2 linked regions of the Homo sapiens genome follow. The protein of the gene in region 2 interacts with the protein of the main gene of each other region in a biochemical or structural test. Each region holds a gene or a part of one and is shown on either strand. Other genes may lie near its edges.

Region 1 (3,813 bases), on a different chromosome or scaffold from region 2:
GTGTGAGCCACTGTGCCCGGCTAACAACAAATATTTAAAGGCAGGAAAGTGGCAGTGCTCTTTGGCTCCAGTGAGCAGTCATGGCTCAATAAATAGAAATTTCAGGAGAGCCAATTTCCATTGATTATAAAGACTTAGGTTTGTAGCAACTAGAGCTGCCCTCTGGGAAAAGGGTGATTTTATCATCAACGACTGCTCAAACTGGGTTTGGAGAACAACCCAGTATGGCTTTTACAGAGCAGAGTTGTGCCTTAAGGGGAAGATGCATGGTTTCTAAACCCCTTTAAACTCTGAGATTGCATGGGGGAAGGCAGCTGCAGATCATGCTGCCTGAAAAGAGAGGATCTGATTTCAGGCCCCAGAAATCATGATTTTCCTAGTTCTTAGTTTCCGCATCTCTAATGTGAGTTTTTTCTAAGGTTTCTAGTCTGAGCTTCGAGACTGAGTTTCTGCTCATGCTTACTCACCACTGAGTGTGAGGCTTTTAATGACCTGGGCCAGTGACTGGCTGCAGCCTAGGGTAGCCCCAAACCCACGCCTTCTCCAATTAAGGGACTCTTCCGGACAGAGCTCAGAGCAAAGGGTAGTAGCAGGCTTTGAGCTGCAGGGAGATACTGTCATATCCTAGACTGAAGGAAGTTAAGCTGAGCAGAAAAATGCTCTGAAGAATGACTCAGAAGAGGCTCTTGTGAGGAAGCTTCCTTGGAGTACGCGTGTTTGGATTTGGGGAGGTGAAGGTCGTCCCCATGCCAGGCTGGCCGGGGCTGTTTGTGACATCGTGGAGCTGAGTGTTCAGAGCATGGGCTTCAGGGCAGGTAGTCGTGGGTTCGAATTTTGGTTCTGCAGCTCAGTAGCTGTGTGACCTTAGCCAGTTATTCCACTTCTCTGAGCCTCGGTGTCTCCATTGTTAGTGATGGAGATGGATTTAGTTTGGAACCTTGCCACCTCCCAGGGTGGTTGTGAGGGTCCAGTGAGGTCACATGTGAGAACACCAGACTAAGATGTTAGTGTCAGTTCCAATATTCAGGGCCGTGGGGCAGGGGGAAGGGCGATGAGGAGACACAGAAGTGTGTGGGCAGCAGAGACTGTGGAAGTGTGGAGGCATGGGGAGGCCTGAGGGCTCTGCTTCGAGAGTCAGAGGATGGTGGCCTCCGAGTGAGGACTGGGTTAAGGGAAGGGGTGGGTGTGTCTGGGACTTAGGGAGAATGCTGTTGTGTGGAGGTAGAGTAAAGACAGCAGGAGGGAGAGAAAGGGTGTGCGAGGGCCAGAGGGGACTGTGGAGGGGGTGGGCACACACCCTGTGCGGGGCTGGGGGTGTGAGATGGCTAATGTGGTTGGGGTCAGCGTGGGCAGGGCTGTGGGCATCGTTGTGTGGGTGGGAGGCCCAGAAGTGTCGCCCTCCCCATCCTGAGGGACTGGTTCCTCGCTGGGAGGAGGAGGATGTAGCCAGAACCTCTGGGAAAACAATGAGTAACAGGCACCAGAGGCAGCCAGGTCCAGATGTGCTGCCTACCTAGGACCACAGGCTGTGCTGGCTGGTCCCTCCCCTGCCCTTCCTCAGGCCTTGCCCCTCCACTTTGCCCCTGTGGGTGGAGTGGCACTTTCCCCCACCCTGGAGGCCCAGGGAAGGAAAGCTGCCTTTATGAGCCTGAAGCATCTTGGAGGTCTCCTGGGGCCAGCAATGGTGGGCTCTTTGCCAAAAGTCTCAGGCCTTCCTCCCCCCATCCTGTGCTCTCCTGCCCCAAGAGAGGAGGCTCTGGTGGGCCGGGAGGGCGGGGCACACGCTGCACCTTGCTGACTTGTTGTACAGTAGGTCCTACTCTGCGTGGCTGCACCTGGAAGCACGTTCTTTCAGCTGCACAGGTGTCTTTCCCTTTTGGCCTTTATGAAATGCCTGCTGTGCACACTCCATATATTTGCACAGAGGCACAGGTGGGACGGAAAGAGTGGGGAAAGCAGACACAACCTGCTCGCTTCCTGCTGTGTTGCTTCCTGTCTGGGACCTTCCATTCCTCCTCTGTGAGATGAGAAACAGCCGCCCTTGCCCTAGAGAGTGGGTGAACAAAGCCCTGGGTACCAGGTCTGGAGGCTCAGTGGGTGCTGGGTCCTGGATCCTGCGATGGGGCTGCCTGTTCCAGAAAACCCGCTCCCTGCTCCCACCTCAAAGGTGAGAAAGGGAATCTATTTTTTTAAAAAGTCAAACTTAAGAAAAATTACAAGAATACAATGAACTCCCACATACCCCTCACCTAGATTCACGAATTAGTAACATTTGCCTTATTTACTCTAACTCTAATCTCTATAGTTATTGTCATAATTATTGCTGATTCAGGTAGGAGTAAGCTGCAGACATCACAGTCCTTTTCCCCTAAATATCCCAGCGGGAATTAACTAAGAATAAGGATATTATCATACATAACCAAAGCGTGAGTTCCACCTTTAGAAACTTTTTTTTTTTTTTTTTTTTTGAGATAGGGTCTTGCTCTTGTCACCCAGGCTGGAGTGCAGTGGCGCCATCTCAGCTCACTGCAACCTCCGCCTCCCAGGTTCAAGTGATTCTTCTACCTCAGCCTCCCGAGTAGCTGGGACTACAGGTGCCCACAACCATGCCCGGCTAATTTTTGTATTTTTAGTAGAGACGGGGTTTCACCACGTTGGCCAGGTTTGTCTCAAACTGCTGACCTCTGGTGATCCGCCAGCCTCAACCTCCCAAAGTGCTGGGATTACAGGCGTGAGCCATCACTCCCGGCCTAGAAACTTTCACATTGATGGAATCATGTATTTGTTTCCCAGACCTGCCATAACAAAGTACCACAGACTGGGTGGCTTAAACGACAGAGATTTATTTTCTCACAGTTCTGGAGGCTAGACGTCTCAGATCAAGGTGCCGACAGGTTTGGTTCTTCTGAAGGCCCTTTCCTTGGCCTGCAGATGGCCATCTTCTCACTGTGTCCTGGCTTGGTCTTTCCTCTGTGTGAGTCCGGATTTTCTCATCTCATAAAGATACCAGTAAGATTAGATTAGGGCCTGCCCTAAAGATCTTATTTTAACTTAATTACCTCTTTAAAGACATTATCTTCAAATATGATTACATTCTCAGGTCCTGGTGGTTAGAACTTCAGCATATGAATGGGGGAGAGAGAACAATTCAGTCCATAACAAATACTATGATCTAACAGGCAGTCCACACTCAGGCATGCTGGTTGTCCTGGGGATGTTCTTTGTGGCATCCCCCCACATTGACCCACAATCCAGCTTTGTTATGTCTCCTCAGTGTCTTGCCTGGAACAGTTTCTCAGCCTTGGTGGAGAAAGGGAACCTTCACGTTGCAGGGAAGCAAAGGTGCTCAGCAGGAATGGGGGTTCAGAAGCGCAGGCTGCCCCAGGACAGGGAAGCTGTTGAAGGGTTTGCTCTAGTCCATGAAGTTGCCTTTCCTGGCTTTTTCTTTGATGTCAAAAGCACCAGGAGGTGAGCTTAGATCTCAGGAAGCGCACCAAGAATCCGTGCATGAGTCCCCTGCGGTGTGTCTGACTCCATCACCATGGCGCCTGTTCGTTGCTGGGCTGGTTGGCCTGCAGAGCCCTGAGTGGTCTCATGGAGGGTGCCCTTCTGAGTGACCTTGAGCATGTGACTTCTATTCCTACCAATTTCAGTGTCCTAATGTATAGAACAGCCAGTGACACAAATTATAGTAGTAAACATTTTTTGAGCATTCTTGTCATGCAAATCAATAAAAAATCTGAGCCACCCAGAAAGTCCATGAGGCCCTAAGTCATTCAACTTAGCGTTTACTGTGCATTGGCTCACTTCATC
Region 2 (3,813 bases):
AAGTTGAAACTTGGTAATAAGATAAATCTTTTGACTGATTTTAAAACAGCCAACGTTTAGCAAGGTGGCTTAAAATAAGATTGAGAGGGGGAAAAAGATTGAGAATGGCAGTTTAAGAGTGGGGCTGGGTGCGTTGGCTCACACCTGTAATCCCGGCACTTTGGGAGCCTGAGGTGGAAGGATCGCTTGAGGCCAGGAGTTCAAGACCAGTCTGGGCAACATAACGAGACCCTGTCTCAATTTTTAAAATAAAAGAAAAAAAATTTCCCACCCCATCCTCTGGTTTTTCTGTGTATACTGTTTATTTTTCCAAAGGGATTTGAGGAGTTTGTGGACAGTAAAGTGTTTGTTGTTTTTGTGAGACAGGGTCTTGCTCTGTCACCCTGGCTGGAGTGTAGTGGTGCGATCACTGTTCACTGCAACCTCTACTTCCCGGGCTCAGGTGATCTTCCTGCCTCAGCCTCCGGAGGAGCTGGGACTACAGCTGTGTGCGACCATGCCTGGCTAGTTTTTCGTATTTTTTGTAGAGATGAATGTTCACAGTGTTGCCCAGGCTGTTCTTGAACTCCTGGGCTCAAGCAATCTGCCTGCCTCAGCCTTCCAGAGTGTTGGGATTACAGGTGTGAGCCCCTGCTCCCAGCCCATAAAATGTATTGTTAATGTGAATTAAATTTTTGGAACTATTTTGGAAGAGTATTGCATGATTTATACCTAGAGGTTTTTTTTTTACAAAGTTTAATTCAAACTTAAAAAAAATTTCCTACTAGAGGAAACATAAAAATACAAATATAAAAGTATTGAAAATTTTCAGAGCATCACATTACTTAGAGGTTTAACGTATTTTCGGCATTGTTTTCAAATATAGGTAATTAGCTGTAGTGCATAATTCAGAGTTTAAAAACAAACTGAGGCCGGGGGCAGTGGCTAACGCTTGTAATCCCAGCACTTTGGGAGGCTGAGGAGGCAGATCACGAGGTCAGGAAATCGAGACCATCCTGGCCAACATGGTGAAACCCCGTCTCTAATAAAATACAAAAATTAGCTGGGTGTGGTGGCACGTGCCTGTAATCCCAGCTACTCAGGAGGCTGAGGCAGGAGAATCGCTTGAACCCGGGAGGCAGAGGTTGCAGTGAGCCGAGATTGTGCCAGTGCACTCCAGCCTGGGTGACAGAGCGAGACTCCGTCTCAAAAAAAAAAAAAAAAAAAAAACCGAAAAACAAACAAAATAACTGGATATCTTAGCCTGCTTCCTGTCTCCAAGGTACTGCTTTATGAAATGCTGAGCCTTCTTACCACTGCTATCCAGTTCTTTGTTACATTTGAACCTTGTGTTACTCTAGGTCCCCTGTTAAAATGGAAAGAAGATGCCTCAGAAGTAAATTCTGTGTGGCATTGTTGGCTGCCTTCATTAGTTCCTTCAGCCTGTTTTGTGGGCTGTTGAACATTACACTACAACCTGCCAGTGGTGTGGGAATTTTGCTCATTTTTATTGCTGAGAGCCTTGACTGAGACTTCACAAAAACAACTCCAATGTTACTGTAGTTAATGGCATTTTCCAGGGGTTGCTTTCATGTGAAGCTGATGCTTTTAAGGTGACAGTGATTTGGGCCTAGTCCAGCATTGATTGGTTTTTTCACCTCCATGAACTGCGTATTTGGAAAATAATGTGTGTCTCTCTAAGAGTTTTTTTGTTTGTTTGTTTTTTGTTTTTGAGACGCTGTCTCCCTCTGTTGCCAGGCTGGAGCGCAGTCGCGCCATCTCGGCTCACTGCAACCTCCACCTCCTAGGTTCAAGCGATTCTTCAGCTTCAGCCTCCCGAGTAGCTGGGACTACAGGTGCGCACCACCATGACCAGCTAATTTTTGTATTTTTTTTAGTACAGACAGGGTTTCATTATGTTGGCCAGGATGGTCTCATCTCCTGACCTTGTGATCCGCCTGCCTGGGCCTCCCAAAGTGCTGGGATTACGGGCATGAGCCACCGCGCCCAGCCAATAGAGTTCTAAAAGTTTTGTCTTTTATACATGTCAGTCTTCTAAGTCCATTTCTAAAAAATTGTTCAGAGATTGAATGTTTGTATAGCAAATACAATTTCCCATTGATTTTCGTTAAATTTGGTATTTTTTTCACAGAAAAAAATGGTATCATAAAACTTGTTTTTTAGAATCCTAGCATTTACCTCAGAAAAGTCTGCCTCTGCAGAAAGTGCAAATCTGTATGCATTTAATTCTGTACAATCATAAAACTTTAAAATATTAGTGTTTTGGAGGGGTCATGGGCATTATCTTGCTTCATTCATGTACATCGTTTGACAGCTAAGGAAACCAAGGCCTGAAGAGATCTAAGATCTTGGTACTGAAAGTGTGATTTCTGGACCAACAGTATTAGCATCACCTGGGAACTTGATAGACGTTAGAATCTTGACTTCATCTCAGTCCTACGGTCCTACTGAATTAGAATCTTAGAATCTACTTTTTCTTTTTCTTTTTTTTTTTTTTTGGAGACGGAGTCTCACTCTGTCACCCAGGCTAGAGTGCAGTGGCACGATCTTGGCTCACTGCAAGCTCCGCCTCCTGGGTTCACGCCATTCTCTTGCCTCAGCCTCCTGAGTAGCTGGGACTACAGCTGCTGCCACCGCGCCTGGCTAATTTTTTGTGTTTTTAGTAGAGACGGGGTTTCACCGTGTTAGCCAGGATGGTCTCGATTTCCTGACCTTGTGATCCGCCCGCCTCGGATCCGCCCGCCCGCCCAGCACTCCCAAAGTGCTGGGATTACAGGTATGAGCCACCGCGCCCGGCCTTCTTTTTTTGTAAATAAGAGGCACAATCTTGCCCTGTTGCCCAGTTTGGATTGGAGTGTAGTGGTGTGATCATAACGCACTGCCACCTGGAACTCCTGGACTCAAGTAATCCTCTCACCTCAGTAGCTGGGACTACAGGCATGTGCCATCATACACTGCCTTTTTTTTTTTTTTTTTTTTTTTTAAGAATTGGAGTCTCACTGTGTTGCCCATGCTCGTCTCAAACTCCTGGCCTCCTAACGTGCTGGGAAGAACCTGCATTTTAACAAGATTTTCAAGTCATTCAGTGCGCATTCAGTTTGAGAAGCACTGCTAAACGATGCATACACCTGGGCAACATAGTGAGACCCTGTCTCTACAAAATAAAATAAAATTAGCCTGTTGTAGTGGTGCACACCTTTAGTCCCAGCTACTTATGAGGCTGAGATGAGAGGATTGCTTGAGCCCAGGAGGTTGAGGCTGCAGTGAGCCGTGATCGCACCGCAGCGTTCCAGCCTGGGCAACAGCAAGAGACCCTGTCTCAAAAAATACGTAAATAAATAAAAATTAAAATGATGCATACATGGTTGCTCAGCTCGTTAGTCTTCTGAGTTGCTCTTTCCACTGGCCCTTCTGAAAAAAGTCAAATGGAAAATTTGGAAGCTAATCACTGCCCAGTTGAACTTTCTATGATGATAGAAGTGTTCTGTGCTATCCAGTGAGGTAGCCATTGGCCATGTGTGACTGTTGAATACTTGACGAGCAAGTAGTGCACTTGAGGAATTGAATTTTTTATTTAATTTTAATTCCTTTAAATAGTTGGGGCTGGGCGCCGTGGCTCACGCCTGTAATGCCAGCACTTTGGGAGGCTGAGGCGGGCGGATCACGAGGTCAGGAGATCGAGACCATCCTAGCTAACATGGTGAAACCCTGTCTCTACTAAAAATACAAAAAATTAGCCGGGTGGCGGGCGCCTGTAGTCCCAGCTGCTTGGGAGGCTGAGGCAGGAGAATGGCATGAACCCAGGAGGCGGAG

The links.
Region 1: of the proteins of MAPK6 (region 2) and USP20, one has a biochemical effect on the other in vitro, tested with the Homo sapiens proteins (one study listed by BioGRID).

Annotation. Positions count from the first base shown.
Region 1 is NC_000009.12:129,838,320-129,842,132, forward strand, and holds part of USP20 (ubiquitin carboxyl-terminal hydrolase 20), read left to right. Parts: intron 1-3,813.
Region 2 is NC_000015.10:52,021,920-52,025,732, forward strand, and holds part of MAPK6 (mitogen-activated protein kinase 6), read left to right. Parts: intron 1-3,813. UniProt on the Homo sapiens protein: Atypical MAPK protein. Phosphorylates microtubule-associated protein 2 (MAP2) and MAPKAPK5.